2 separate regions of the Homo sapiens genome follow, and region 2 is linked to region 1. Evidence: fine-mapped expression QTL. Tissue or cell type: whole blood. Region 1 holds a variant in brackets; the other region holds the start of a gene. All regions are shown on one strand. Distances are between the middles of the regions.

What was found. PIP is the estimated chance that this variant, and not a neighbour inherited with it, causes the effect.
Region 2: FN3K starts here. The variant in region 1 is the best candidate, but not a certain one, in a credible set for the expression of FN3K in whole blood (TOPMed, PIP 0.53).

The regions. Positions count from the first base shown.
Region 1 is chr17:82,783,823-82,791,712 of GRCh38, forward strand. The region is part of intron 7 of TBCD (tubulin folding cofactor D); the gene reads left to right. Among named protein-coding and RNA genes, the nearest start is that of TBCD, 36 kb to the left of the region's middle. RefSeq lists enhancers at 3,691-3,740, 5,971-6,472. The variant G/A (reference allele first, on the strand shown) is at 4,289.
Region 2 is chr17:82,732,021-82,739,910 of GRCh38, forward strand. FN3K (fructosamine 3 kinase) reads left to right here and starts at 3,595. Exons shown (of 6, transcript NM_022158.4): 1 at 3,595-3,757; 2 at 6,469-6,620. The coding sequence starts at 3,617. RefSeq lists enhancers at 2,626-3,338, 4,051-4,763, 4,764-5,475.

The DNA.
Region 1 (7,890 bases):
GTTTAAACTTAATGCTTTCAGGCCGGGCGCGGTGGCTCATGCCTATAATCCCAGCACTTTGGGAGGCCGAGGCAGGCAGATTACTTGAGGTCGGGAGTTCGAGACCAGCCTGGTCAACGTGGTGAAACCCCATCTCTACTAAAAATGCAAAAAATAGCCAGGCATAGTGGCGTGGGCCTGTAATCCCAGCTACTCCGGAGGCTGAGGCAGGAGAATTGCTTGAACCTGGGAGGCGGAGGTTGAGTGAGCCGAGATCATGCCACTGCACCCCAGCCTAGGTGACAGAGCAAGACTCTGCCAGAAAAAAAAAACAGAAAAAACAAACCCAACTTAATACTTTCAGTACCCTTGGGTACACAACACTAGTTTTTAATAAAATTTTAAACAAAATTTGGAATGTTTTCATCTTTCTGGAGTCTTTCTAAAAAGATTTTTCTGGTGGCATACCTGTCGTACTGATGAAATAGAGGACCTCCTCATGCCAGGCATTTTTGGGCATTGCAGGTACAGATGTGCTGTCTGTGTCCCCAGGTGCCCCTCGTTCCGGCCGTGCTGGGGCAGCATCCTCAATGCCTAAAGAGGATTCATTGCTATCGTGGAGGTCAGGGCAGGCTGAGGCTGGCCTTGAAGGGTACGGGGGTGGAGGGGTAGGGCAGGGAGGACTCAGGTCTCGGACGTACCCACTGTGCCATTGGTCCATGGATCCTCAGGGAATGTGCGTTTTATGTTTTAGGCAATTCTGGTAAAGGTGGTGGATTTAGTTGCAATTGGATTCTTCATTTTTTGCCTTGGGTCTCACTGAGGAAACATGAAGAAGGGGTAGATGGCAGTGGCCAGGGTGGGGGTCCTGGGAATTCTGGTAGCTTCACCTTAATGTTTGTGATGCTGGGTGTACAGACAGCCTCCCACATGACCAAGGACACGCTCTTAGGTCCCTAAGACCCCAGAAGAATGGGCCGCTACTGCCAAGAAGTATGACATGCGTGTGGAAGACCATGAGCCTTACCCGGCTGGTGGCATGGGGTGTGGCAACTGCCGCAGCTCCCCGAACCATTGCAGTGGGAAAGGGGTACGTGCTGTGACTAAGACCACTGGACCCGACCCATCGCAGCGACAGGGGGTCCATGCTGTGTGACTGAGACCACTGGACCCCACCCATCGCAGCGGGAGGGGGGTCCATGCTGTGTGACTGGGACCACTGGATCCCACCCATCGCAGCGACAGGGGGTCCATGCTGTGTGACTGAGACCACTGGACCCCACCCATCGCAGCGGGAGGGGGGTCCATGCTGTGTGACTGGGACCACTGGACCCCACCCATCGCAGCGGGAGGGGGGTCCATGCTGTGTGACTGGGACCACTGGATCCCACCCATCGCAGCGACAGGGGGTCCATGCTGTGTGACTGAGACCACTGGATCCCACCCATCGCAGCGGGAGGGGGGTCCATGCTGTGTGACTGGGACCACTGGACCCGACCCATCGCAGCGGGAGGGGGGTCCATGCTGTGTGACTGGGACCACTGGATCCCACCCATCGCAGCGGGAGGGGGGTCCATGCTGTGTGACTGGGACCACTGGACCCGACCCATCGCAGCGGGAGGGGGGTCCATGCTGTGTGACTGGGACCACTGGACCCGACCCATCGCAGCGGGAGGGGGGTCCATGCTGTGTGACTGGGACCACTGGATCCCACCCATCGCAGCGGGAGGGGCGTCCATGCTGTGTGACTGGGACCACTGGACCCGACCCATCGCAGCGGGAGGGGGGTCCATGCTGTGTGACTGGGACCACTGGACCCGACCCATCGCAGCGGGAGGGGGGTCCATGCTGTGTGACTGGGACCACTGGATCCCACCCATCGCAGCGGGAGGGGGGTCCATGATGTGTGACTGGGACCACTGGATCCCGTCCATCGCAGCGGGAGGGGGGTCCATGCTGTGTGACTGGGACCACTGGATCCCGCCCATCGCAGCGGGAGGGGGGTCCATGCTGTGTGACTGGGACCACTGGACCCGACCCATCGCAGCGGGAGGGGGGTCCATGCTGTGTGACTGGGACCACTGGACCCGACCCATCGCAGTGGGAGGGGGTCCATGCTGTGACTGGGACCACCTGGCCTGAGGTTGGACTGGTGAAATGACAATGTTGGCACCTACATGTGTGTCAGGATCCATGTGGATATGTCCCGCACACCTGCTTCTTGGAATATTGTGTAAGCAGCTCTTCAGCTTCACGGCCTTCATGATCGTGTTCTGGGTGGGGAAGAATTAACCAGCCTACCAGCCCGTGGGGCCAAAGCAGTGTCCTTATAATCATCTGCACCTGGAACCAGGTGGCGATCCCACCGTAGAACCTGTGGCTCACAGGATCTGAGGTGGCTTCGAGGGCTTCTCTGCCCTCTAGGATTCCCTCATCCTTAGAAATTTAACCTTAATGAAATCCCTAATAAAACTCAGTGCTGTGGGGGAAAAACATCTCAGGTCAGGGGAGCAAATGGGAGGTCTAACAGGATGTGACCAGAGCTGGTTGTCTCCAATGGCTCTGCCCCGAGTGTGGTGCCTCTGCAGGGGAGGCCGTTAGCCCTGCCCCGAGTGTGGGTGCTGCTTTGGGAGGGGAGGCAAATTTGATCTCTGTCCGGTCTCTTAACGGGCTTCTAGGGGTCTCCTGCAGCTCTCGTCAGCCTGGCCTGGGAGCCTCCCCTCCTCTGCCGTCCCCACCCCATGCTGTTGGGTCAGCAGGATATCCCAGCCTTGGGGCTGGAGCCAGCTGTGGCTGCCCAGGGACTTGCAGGCAGGTGAGGCGTGCCACCTTCTGGCCAGGCTGGCTGTGGGAGAGGCAGCCTCCTGGTGAGGGGCTGTGGGCCACTGCGTTCAGGCTGCCTTGGAGGGCTCCACGGTGTCCCCTGGGTGCAGGGCTCCGAGTCCTTCTCGGCTTGGGAGGGTCTTGTGGCCACATGTGTCTAGTTCTGCAGTTTCTTTGTTGTGGGTTCGGTTCTTTACTTTTTTTTTTTTTTTTTTTGATGATCTTGTTGGTTTTCTCTAGATTGTTCCCAAGTTTTCTGTTCTTCCATCCCAAGTGGGAGACACGTGTTGCACAGCCTGCATTTGGAATACCCAGAGGGTGGGTGGGCGGGACGGCTCGCTGCCCCATTCCCCTCCTAGCTGCTGGGACAGGTGGGAATTCCTGTAGCAAAGTCAAACCAGCCAGGAGTGGGGAAGTGCTTTTTATTTTGACATCTCCAAGTTCCACGTTGAGGTGGAGAGACATTCGTTTTTCCCCTTCCTCCCGAGGTGTAAAACGGTCTTCTCAAAGGCTTAGGAGAGCCGAGCCCTGTGCCACCCCCCGGCATATGCTGGCAAAGAGTGAGGCGTGCTGTCCTGCCGTTTAGGGCAGAGCACCCAGGCGGTTTGGCAGCAGCACCTCAGAACTATTCAGAGATTTGCCCTCAGCAAGAGTGAGCAATTGTCTGACGCAGCCGGCTGAAATCCCTGGGAAGGGAATGAATGAAACTGCCGTGAAGCAACGCCTGGCGGGGCCGGGCTTCTGGCAGCTCCTGGGGCCAGCACGTCCCTTCCAGAGCGTCTGAAGCCCTGGGCGGCTGCTGGAGCATCTCGAGTCTTTCCAGAGTCATGTGTGTTGTTTCCTTCTGTCTCTTGGAAGGGTCCGTTTGGTCTGATCCAGGTTGCCTCAGCAGGAGGAAGTCGTGCTGGGTGCTGAGCGGGTGGGAGGTTTCACCTTGGGCTTGGCAGAGCTGCAGGCAGAGGCCGGGCGCCTGCTGTACATGATGAAACTTGCAGGTGGATTCTGCTTAGGGTTTCATCTGTTTCCTTTGATGCACTTGGCTTCATTGTCATCCACCTGTTCATTACTGTGGGCGAAACAGGTGAACTCTCAACAAGTACCATCGAAACCAGGATTTGATCTTCATTTCCCTCGAAGCGTAGTTCCCTTGCAGTGAGGGTTTTTAACTCCTGTGGGAGGGAAGCAAGTGTTTGGCAATGTAATTTCCCTGGAAGGCCCCTGTACTTCAGCTTTAAAAACACGCTTTGGTTTAGTCCCAATTTAAGCATTAAGATTAATGCAAATTGAGGAAATTCAAGGAAGGAGAAAAACACATTAAAAATGGAAAATGGGCTGGGCACAGTGGCTCATGCCGGTAATCCCAGCGCTTTGGGAGGCCGAGGCAGGTGGATCACTTGAGGCCAGGAGTTTGATACCAGCCTGGCCAACATGGTGAAACCCTGTCTCTACTAAAAATACAAAAAATTAGTTGGGCATGGTGGTGCGC[G/A]CCTGTAATCCCAGCTACTTGGGAGGCTGAGGCAGGAAAATCGCTTGAACCCGGGAGGTGGAGGTTGCAGTGAGCCGACATGGCGCCACTGCATTCCAGCCTGGGCAACAGAGCAAGACTCCATCTAAAAAAAAATTTACAAAAAGGAAAATGGCTGTCATTTCATGTGTGACTCTGCTTGCTGATTGATAGTTGTGCTCTCTTGGTTTCTAGTGCTCTGATTGGAAGATTGTCGACTGTGTGGAGTGGGTTTCTCCCTGTGTGTTCTCACAATGGCTGGGAGGCGGCGGCGGGGCTGGGGGACTCGGACTGCGAGACGGGGCTGTTGACTATGAAAGTGGTAATAGGATGCTCTTCCCCTTATCGGCTGTTAGGCTCGAGTCTCCCCTTTGCAGTGCGGTTTCTTTTTATTTTTATCATTGACAAAAGCACAACTCTTGTTAAAGGATAAAATAGTCACACACAACAGCATTAAAAACCAAGAAAGCCAAAGAACGCTGGCACTGTCAGCCTCACTCCCAGCTCCCGCTCGGCCCTTGTGAAGAGAGGTGCTGAAGCCACTCTGCTTTTTTATAGTTAATAAAAGCAGCCAGGTCCCCAAGTAGGAGTGGTTGTGGCCAAGAGTGTGTGGGCCGGGAACCAGGGCTTGAGCTGCTGTGAGCTGTGCCCAGGCCCTTTGCTGACTCCGTCTCTCCTGTGACCTGAGGCCAGGGTGAGCACCAGCGCCCGCCCCACCTGGGAGGGAAGCAGCAGACCTCTCACCGCAGAGGCTGGTGTGAGGCTAATTAGCACAGTCAGTCTTTGAAGATGAAAGAAGACAGCTGATTATCTAAAACATTTCACATTTAGGCTTTGATTTCTCTTCAGATTTGGGGAACAGCACCCTACTGTTTCATTTAGGGTTCAGTGTGGCCAGAGGAAGATGACCCACGTGGTCCTTTTTAGTTGTAGTGCTCTCTTGGGGCAAGGTTTTGGATGGAGAAAATAGGACAAGAGCAGTTTGAATGTGGGTACTTTCCAGAGATCATGCTCCTGTAGCATTTGGGTGAAACGAGGTACCCCAGGCCACGCTGGTTCGGTCTCCTCGTGGCGTTAAGGAAAGACCTGGAGCAGCCAGCTCCTAACACTCATTTCCCATCACTCAGCATTTTATGTGGGGCGGGCACAGTGCCGTGAGTCTTACAGAAACCTGCATGGTGAGCCGCACGCCTTTGAGTCCCCATCAGCCCTGGCCCATCCCTGCTGAGGTGGCGCGACCTGCTCACAGACGTGTGCTCACAGGCAGCCCGTCGCGGGGTCATGTGCTAGACGGGGAGGGGGCTTGGCGGGTCACCAGCCTCACCCCGCTCAGTTCTTAGATGAGGAAGAGACAGGCAGAGAGCTGGGCTGGGCTGCTGCTGAGTGGGCTAGAGCTGGGTCTCAGTGGCCCCTGCCCCAGTCGTCCTGACCTGTGGCCCCTGTGCAGGTTGGGGTGCCCCTGCCCTCTCCCCTGCCCCGCCCTCACCTGGCTCACAGACCCGTGATGCCTCACTGCCCACGCAGTCACCTTAGAGGCACCTTCCCTCTAAGGCAGATGTCCCTCAGGCTTTGGTCCTGGCTGTTGATATCTCAGCTCTGATTCACCCTTGACCTTTATTACCTGATTTCTGTCCTTGGTTCTCGAGCCCTCCTTCTGTGGACCCGTTGGGTACACGTGTGACACTTCAGAACCCGCAAGTCCCAGGTCACACCTGTTGTACCATCACTTTCCCCTCCTGGCCTGTTTACCCGGGAGCCCAGCAACAAATGGGAGCTTCTGTGCTGCTGTCCGTGCATACGGCCCAGGAGCCGGGCTCATCCCCGAGACGCCGTGTTCCCTCCCGCTGTCCGCTCACACCTGCCTGTGTGGACGTGGCTCTGACATGTCTCCTTCCTGGTTCATTGCTCATCTGTTCTCATGTGGCTGCGCCGCCACCCTGTCCTGGGGGTCCTTGTCCCAGCACGTGGCTCTGTGCTTCACGTCATCCTGAGTCTGTCCCGCTCTGCCGCCTGGTCCAGGTGGGAGCCATTTCCTTCTGTGAAGTGTTCCCTCTGGAGGCCCTGGGCTCCCCGACTACCCTCCCGCCTCTCCTGTGGCTGTCGGCTGCAGTAAAGGTGCTGGTGGAGGGTGTGAGCCATCCATTCATAGAGTGCCAGACTCTGTCCCATGCTGCCTCTGTGCCCTTGATCCTGGCAGCACACCTGCTGTCCTGTGGCCTGCGTAAAGGGTGGCCTCGGAAGCCTGTGGCCTGGGTAAAGCGTGGCCTCGGAAGCTTGTGGCCTGGGTAGTGGGTGGCCTCATCTTGGCCTCGGAAGCAGGAGGGCTCAGGCTGTGGCCCACGCCTGGGGTTCCCCATCCCCCCGTGTGTCCTGGTGTCTTTGCTTGGCTCGCCGGCCTCCATGGGCTCCCCAGGTGGCAGGTGGCTCTCAGCCATGCTCTCCGTCCTCATGCTTGTTTCTGCCCTGGCAGAGCTGCTCAGTGGCCAGCCCGTGGGACCCCTGTGCACCCTGCCGCCCCCAGCATATGTCAGCAGCGCCGTCCGGGGGAGATGTGGCATCAGCACAGCCTTGTCCTTGTCTCTGCCCGTTCTTCCTTCCTTGCCTCTATGTGTCTGCTTTTTTCTCTTCCACATGGTGTCCACAGTGGATAACCACATCCACTGGCCTCCTGGTTGGTGGATCCTCCTCCTGCTGGGCTCAGAGCTGTGCCACCCCCACCTGCACTGCAGAGAAGCTCAGACCCCTCTCTGACCTCAGACGCTGGAGCCTGAGCCCCCTGCTTCCCAGGCCAATGCCCCTTCAGGTCCCTGCAAAGCCACTGCTCTTTGTGGTCTCCCTGCCGCCGTTGCCCTCCCTTTGCCGCTGAGCCCGTGGGCTGCTTGGTGGCTTGGGAGCTGCATACAATTCTATTTTGTCTGGTTTGTTTTCAGGCTTTCTGTGGCAGGAATTGTGTCTCTTGCATCTTTTTTTTTTTTTTTTTTTAGACGGAGTCTCGCTCTGTTGCCCTGGCTGGAGTGCAGTGGCGCGATCTCGGCTCACTGCAAGCTCCGCCTCCCGGGTTCACGCCATTCTCCTGGCTCAGCCTCCTGAGTAGCTGGGACTACAGGCACCCTCCACCACGCCTGGCTAATTTTTTTGTATTTTAGTAGAGATGGGGTTTCACCGTGTTAGCCAGGATGGTCTCGATCTCCTGACCTCGTGATCTGCCTGCCTCGGCCTCCCAAAGTGCTGGGATTACAGGCGTGAACCACTGTGCCCGGCCATGGATCATTAACCTCTTTTCTAGCATCTTACCTCTGTGGTGGTTCACTTTTGCGAGCTTTTGCTGGGCCTTGGAAGGTGCGTGGGCTCGCTGCTCCTCTCTTCTGTGGGAACTGTTGCCTTTGGGCAGGGGGCACACCCCAGAGGTGGTCACACACACCTGAACGGGAGCACAGTCATAAGTCCCTGTCATGCAAAGATGGGCTGTGCAGAATGAGCTCGGAATAGCAGCCAGAAGGCTCAGTGATGGGGGAGTTGTTTAAGCTGGAATACTGTAATGCTGCTGGCTGTTTATGGCTGTGAGGTCACTACGTGGGCTGCTG
Region 2 (7,890 bases), 52 kb before region 1:
ACAGGGCAAGACTCCATCTCGGGGTGGGGAAGACCTGTATCTTGGAAAGATGATGTAGGGGTGCACTGTAAGGGGTATATTGGAGGGGGAATTCCAGGCAGCAGGGAGAGGGCTGGCGGGGGCTTTCCTGTGAGTGGGTAAGCAGGACTGTGAGAAGGGCAAAGGCCCAGGAGCCATGGAGGGGCCAGGACAGGGTGGTGAGAGAGAGGGAGCAGTGCCACCGGCTTGTCCACGTATTTCACTGAAGCCTGTGCCACGTCTGCACATCCCACCTCCACCCATCCACGCCTCTGCCTGAACCACTCCATTAACCAGCTGGCCTCTGCTTGGGGTGGCCCAGGGGAGCCGAGAGGAGATGGGGAGGGTGGGTGAGGTTAGGATATCATTCTCAGACTTCCTTCATCAAGCCCACACCCCAGGCCTGGGTGGCGCCAGCTCTGTAGCCAGGCTCAGCTCTGTCCTGTGGTCTCCCCACACCCTGCCCATGTCTGTGCCAGGCCCCTTTCTTGGGTCCTCCTTGATTCCTCCAGCTTGAGGTCCACATCCCACCTTTACTCCGTCCACGCCTCTCCTCTGGGCTGATGGTAGGATCACAAGCATGGGTGGCCCCGACACCTGACCAGCACCGCAGACCAGGCCCTGTACTAAGACATCCAGGCAGATGGGGAAAAAGATGGGTGGTACCACTCCCAGAACGGGAAACCGGACAGAGGGCAGGTTCTGTTTTGTTTGTGACGGAGTCTTGTTCTGTCACCCAGGCTGGAATGCAGTGGCGTGATCTCGGCTCAGTACGACCTCCACTCCCAGGCTCAAGCAATTCTCCTGCCTCAGCGTCCCAAGTAGCTGGGATTACAGGTGTGTGCCACCATGCCCGACTAAAATTTTTTTGTATTTTTCGTAGAGATAGGGTTTCACCAAGTTGATCAGGCTGGTCTTGAACTCCTGACCTTGTGATCTACCCACCTCGGCCTCCCAAAGAGCTGGGATTACAGGCATGAGCCACTGCAACCAGCCGATACAGGTCGTTTTAAAAACAGTATTATTTGCACACCATACAATTTACTCTACTAATTCTCTAAGAAACTTGGGATCACTTAACTGCCCTGCCCTTGAATCTTCAACAGCTCTTAACCCCCCACATAGAGGACTTCCTAGCCTGGTGCCTGCATATCTGTTTCTTCATTCAGGCACCTCTTCTCACTGAGAGACCTGAGCACTCGTATGGTTCTCTGTGTGACGCCTAATATCTGACTGTAGACTCATGAGTTGTATGAAGAAAAATTACAAGGGGCTTTGAGGCAGTAACAGAGAGGACTGACTCTAGACCACAGTGTTGGAATTCCAAAAAAGAGAACCAAGAATACAGAGGGAGAACGCCATGAAGGGCTAAAAGCTGTCCCAGGATTGGAGGACCCACCAGTCCTGTTCAGGGGATGACAGGAGACTCACCCTGACACCTCCCTGGGGAATTTTTCACTGGTGTCACAGAGAAGACCCTAAAAGCCTGCAGAGATAGAACAGTTTCCACACAAAGAATAAGAACTGAAATGGCCATAAGCTTCTCAACATCAAAACTGGAGCTGGCAGCTTCTTGGTTCCTAAAGAACATGGTCTGATCTCCAAGCTGGAATTTGATACCCAGCCAAACTGTCAACTAGGAAGAAAGAAATTTACAGACGTACGAGAGCTCACACTGGCCTGTCAGGAACCTTCTGTCAAGATGCGATAGCAGGGTGGGCTTCAGATGAGAAAAAGCCAGGGACTGGCACATGCCCTTTCTGCAGACACCACAGTCATCCTCCTGTCCTACCTGCTGTTCTGCGGCAGCCCTGCCACTCCTGTCAAGAGGTGGCTGCTTGGCCGGGTGCCATGTGTAATCCCAGCACATTGGGAGGCTGAGGCAGGCGGATCACCTGAGGCCAGGAGTTTGAGACCATCCTGGCCAACATGGTGAAACCCCGTCTCTACTAAAAATACAAAAATTAGCGGGGCGTGGTGACGCGTGCCTGTAATCCCAGCTACTCAGGAAGCTGAGGTAGGAGAATCGCTTGAACCCGGGAGGTGGAGGTTGCAGTGAGCCGAGATTGCACTTCAGCCTGGGTGACAGAGCAAGACCCTGTTTCAAAAAAAAAAAAGAGGTGGCTGCGGATCCCCTTGCCTTGATTGCGGCTTTGGAGACCGATGGAAGGAGGTGGAAATGATGGTGTGTGGCTTCTGAGGCCAGGTCAGAAAAGGCCTTTGCTTCTGCCAGCTCTCTGGGAGCTCTGGCTCTCCCAGTGCTCACTCTTGGAACCTGGCCTCCATGTTCAGGGAAGCTCAGGCCACACCAGGAGGCCACATGGACATGTCCTGCTTGACAGTGACCGCTAAGCCCAGGTTCCAGTGATCCTGGCCGAGGTGCCAGATGTAGGAGTTAAGGAGCCTCCCGATGACCCCAGCCCAGCTGAGCAAGTGGGCAGGACCGCGGGGATAGGCAGCTCCCAAAGGCTCCCTCCCCGCGGCAGGACCCCTGCATCTCTGTGGGAAAAGACAATTGTTGGGGCCCTAAAAAAAACAGATTTATTGATTAAAACCTCATGCATGGCCGGGCGTGGTGGTTCACGGCTGTAATCCCAGCACTTTGGGAGGCTGAGGCACGCAGGTCACCTGGCCAACATGGGGAAACCCCATGTCTACTAAAACTACAAAATGTAGCTGGGCAGGCCGGGCCGGTGGCTTGACGCCTGTAATCCCAGCACTTTGGGAGGCCGAGCGGGTGGATCACGAGGTTAGGAGATTGAGACCATCCTGGCTCACAGGGTGAAACCCTGTCTCCACTAAAACATACAAAAATATTAGCCGGGCGTGGTGGCGGGCGCCTGTAGTCCCAGCTACTCGGGAGGCTGAGGCAGGAGAATGGCTTGAACCCGGGAGGCGGAGCTTGCAGTGAGCCGAGATCGCGCCACTGCACTGCAGCCTGGGAGACAGAGACTCCATCTCTTAAAAACACAAAAAACAAACAATAAAAAAACCTCACGTCAAATGACTTCAGCACGGACTGGGCTCAGGTGCGCACCTGCTCGTGTGCACGCGTGTGTACCCACGTGTATGCATGCATGGGCGCGCGTGGGCATTCCTGTGTCTCAAGTCCCTTTCCCAGGACATCCTGGAATCAGCAGCCCCACCCTGGGCCGGGTCAGCGCGTGCCATCGGAGCCCCCACGTCAGCCTCTCTCTCCGATCGGCACCTGGCGTCCCAGTGCGCAAGCCCCACGTCATCACGGGGGCCGCTGGGCCCGGCCTGGTCTGCAGTGTGGGAAGCCGGCCAGGCCTGTGACCAGCGCCCGGGCCGAGGGCCGGACCTGCGTCCGCTGCGGGGCAGGGATACCGGGTCCCTGCAGGGAGCTCAAGCCCCAGCGCGCCCGCGAAGAGCTGCGCGGACTCCCGGCTGCTTCCCCCGAATCCCGGGCGCAGGAAGCGCGAAGCCGGACGAACGCGGGGAGCGCGCGGCGAGCCCGCCTGAGGCCGCCCCTCCCGCCGCCCGGGGTCACGCGCCGCGCGCTCCCGCCCCGCCCCGCCCCGCAGCGCCTCAGCCGACAGGGGCTTCCGAGCGAGCAGAGTCCCGCGCCCCGCACTCCATGGAGCAGCTGCTGCGCGCCGAGCTGCGCACCGCGACCCTGCGGGCCTTCGGCGGCCCCGGCGCCGGCTGCATCAGCGAGGGCCGAGCCTACGACACGGACGCAGGCCCAGTGTTCGTCAAAGTCAACCGCAGGACGCAGGTGCTGGCCCGTGCGCAGGCGGGGGCTCTGCGGGTCTCTGCGGGGCCTGGGAAGGCGGAGGGGTCGGGGGCAGGCGCATTTCCTGGGGCTGGGCCTGGGGAGGGGTCAGCTTTGGCCCTTGGGAGGTGGCACCTGCTGGGTGAGCCCGGCTCAAGCGTTCTGTGAAGGTTTGTGTCTGCACGATCCGTGACCTTCCTTTGGCCTCCATGCGCAGCGCACAGGCTTCTAGGGGTGGTTTTAACTTTCCTATCCAGCAAGCGTCGGGGGATGTGAGGCTTGGGGTCCTTGGCTCAGCTCTGGGCCGCCCCTCTCAGCCCACCGTCCTCCTGGCAGTGGGAAAGAAGCAGAGACATGGCTGGGCCCCTGGCAGGGACCCCACGGGCCAGGCCAGCGTTCTCCTTCCCACAGGCCTTGTCTGTGTTTAGACCTGATTTCTATCTCCTGCTGAAAATAGTTCTGTTTAAGAATGTATGGAAGGCCGGGCGCGGTGGTTCACACCTGTAATCCCATCACTTTGGGAGGCCGAGGTGAGTGGATCCCTGAGGTCAGGAGTTCGAGACCATCCTGGCCAACATGGTGAAACCCCGTCTCTACCAAAAAATGCAATAATTAGCCGGATGTGGTGCCACTGGCCTGTAATCCCAGCTACTCGGGAGGCTGAGGCAGGAGAATTGCTTGAACCCAGGAGATGGAGGTTGCAGTGAGCCAAGATCGCGCCATTGCACTCCAGCCTGGGCAACAAGAGGGAAACTCCGTCTCAAAAAAAAAAAAGTATGGAAAATGTTAACGGAGGAAGTGGAGAAGGTTAGCTTCAGCCTTGAGAGCCGGCAGGTGGAGAAAGGCAGGCCTGGGTGCCCTCCCGGCCCGAGTGGGCTCAGAAGGCCCTGCACACTCTGGTGGGGGAGCTCTCTGAGGGGCAGCAGGGGTCCTGGTGGGGAGTGCTGGCAGGAGGAACACCAGAGCCATGCAGCCTGGGCGTGCGATCGGATCCTCCGGCATCACCTGCTCTGCCGGCTCAGAACCAAATCCCTCAAAGTGGGGAGTCCTACTCACAGGGAAGCAGTTTTTGGTTCAGGCTTCCCACGGGCTCTGGGAAACTTCCTCAGCTGGTCCTGAAAGCTCTGCAGGGTGAGACCCCTCCTTCCCTCCCACCCCCACGAGGGGCCGGCACATAGTAGCTGCTCAGTCCATGCATAAGAGCAGGTGATGCTGGGGCCCCTGGGGCTTAGCAGCCCCAAGGCCGGGAGTTCCTGGCCTGGTGCATGGGGGGCTCGCCCTGGAGCAGGGCTGGGGTGTGCCGGCCGCCCTCCCACCTGTGGACACTCACACCCACCCTCGGTGCAGGCTGGCCAGGGCTGCCAGGCTGGGGAGGCTGTGCCTGGGCTTTCCCTGGGGTACTTTGAAGGAAAGGGCGTTCTGTTCGTGTGCACCAGCAGATGCTTTGGTCTCATTCATGAGGTTTGATTTTTTTAAACATGCAGTCCTACACTTTGGGCGACTGAGGAAAGGTGGATCACTTGAGGCCAGGAGTTTGAGACCAGCCTGGCCATCATGGTGAAATTCCATCTCTTTTTTTTTGAGACGGACTCTTGCTCTGTCGCCCAGGCTGGATCTCGGCTCACTGCAAGCTGCGCCTCCCGGTTCACTCCATTCTCCTGCCTCAGCCTCCCGAGTAGCTGGGACTACAGGTGCCCGCCACCTTGCCTGGCTAATTTTTTGTATTTTTAGTAGAGACGAGGTTTCACCGTGTTAGCCAGGATGGTCTCAATCTCCTGACCTTGTGATCCGCCCACCCCGGCCTCCCAAAGTGCTGGGATTACAGGTGCGAGCCACCACGCACGGCGGTGGAACTCCATCTCTAGTAAAAATACAGAAAAACACAGCGGGGTGGGGTGGCCCACACCTGTAATCCCAGCTACTCAGGAGGCCGAAGCAGGAGAATCGTTTGAACCCAGGAGGCGGAGGCTGCCGTGAGCCGAGATCATGCCACTGCCCTCCAGCCTGGGTGACAGAGTGAGACCCTGTCTCAAAACAAACATGCAATTCTATAGGCCAAGGTATTCATGGACCACGTTCGTCAATGCATGTTTTCAACCAATGTGTACTGTACGTGAGGTGAGTGTTCACCTAACTGAAAACTGGAATGTTTGTGGGAATATTTCAGAAACAGGAAGGCCCAGGTCCCACGGGAGGCGTTGGGGGCCGGCCGGGTGTGCCGTGCCTTTTACCTTCCCAGCCCCTGCCCTGGACCTGAGGCCCCGCCTGATGGGCCCAGCCCTCTTCTTCCCTGCCTGACGTGTGTGCCCAAGTTAGCTCCAGTGAGGCCTCTGCTGTGGCTGCCCCACCCTAAGAGGCAGCAAGGAAGGTGGGTAGCCCGGGGGTCCAGCTCTGGACCTTGGTTCACTCACACCTCCCCACGCCCTCAGTGCTCCCGGGCACCCACACGTGGCCTGTGCATCCTCCTGTCACAGCAGCCTGCAGACCCCACACCCCTCACGGCCCAGGCTCAGCCTCAGCCTTGCAGCCTCTCGTCTCCGACGGGGGGCCCCTCTGCACCCTGCCCTCTGTGGTGGACGCCAGCTCCCAGCCAGAGCCAGCTATCAGTGAATGAAGGTCCTTGTGACTCCCACGTGGTAGCTTCTGTCAAGGGCCCAGTGGGCAGAGGCCCTGGCTGAGTCAACAAGGCTGACAAGGCTGTGTTCTGGATGCAGGCCCGGCAGATGTTTGAGGGGGAGGTGGCCAGCCTGGAGGCCCTCAGGAGCACGGGCCTGGTGCGGGTGCCGAGGCCCATGAAGGTCATCGACCTGCCGGGAGGTGGGGCCGCCTTTGTGATGGAGCATTTGAAGATGAAGAGCTTGAGCAGGTGAGTGTGTGTGAGACCCATATGCGCACATGTGTACAGGCAGAGAGAGACTCAGAGACAAACAGAGAGAGACAGAGAAAGGGATAGAGATGGGGAGGGAGACAGAAACAGGGAGAAGCCTGTGGCTGAGCCGTCCACACAACTGCCCGGTTATCAGAGGCAGGGCCAAGAGTTCCACCCTGCCATTCTTAATGGAGATAAAAAGTTACTGCTTTCTGGTATGTGACTGGTTTTCCTAGATAAGTTTGGCTGTAATGAGGCTGCATAAAATATATATATATACACATATATATATATATATATATATTTTTTTTTTTTTTGAAACACAGTCTCGCTCTGTTGCCCAGGCTAGAGTGCAGTGCAGTGGTGCAATCTCGGCTCACTGCAACTTCTGCCCCCAGGGTTCAAATGATTCTCCCACCTCAGCCTCCTGAGTAGCTGGGACTACAGGTGTCCACCACCACACCTGACTAATTTTTGTATTTTTAGTAGAGATGGGGTTTCACCATGTTGGCTGAGTTGGTCTCAAACTTCTGACTTCAAGTGATCCACCCACCTCGGCTTCCCAAAGTGCTGGGATAACAGGCCTGAGCCACCACACCTGCCCAAAATAAGTATATTTGAACCCATCATTTGCTTTGTACTTTATTTTTATTTTATTTTTCCAAGACAGAGTCTTGCTCTGTTTCCCAGGCTGGAGTGCAGTGATGCAATCTTGGCTCACTGCAAACTCCGCCTCCTGGGTTCAAGCAATTCTCTTGTCTCAGCCTCGCGAGTGGCTGGGATTACAGGCACCCCACCACCTCACGCAGCTATTTTTTTTTTTTTTTTTTTTGAGACGGAGTGTCGCTCTGTCACCCAGGCTGGAGTGCAGTGGCGCGATCTTGGCTCATTGCAAACTCTGCCTCCTGGGTTGACGCCATTCTCCTGCCTCAGCCTCCCGAGTAGAAGGGACTACAGGCGCCCGCCACCATGCCCGGCTAATTTTTTGTATTTTTAGTAGAGACGGGGTTTCACCATGTTAGCCAGGATGGTCTCGATCTGCTGACCTCGTGATCTACCCGCCTTGACCTCCCAAAGTGCTGGGATTATAGGCGTGAGCCACCGCGCCCGGCCTAATTTTTGTATTTTTAGTAGCATGTTAGCCAGACTGGTCTCAAACTCCTGACCTCAGTGATCCGCCTGCCTTGGCCTCCCAAAGTGTTGGGATTACAGGTGTGAGCCACCACACCCAGTCCATCTTTTTCTTTTGCTTTTTCTTTCCTTTTTT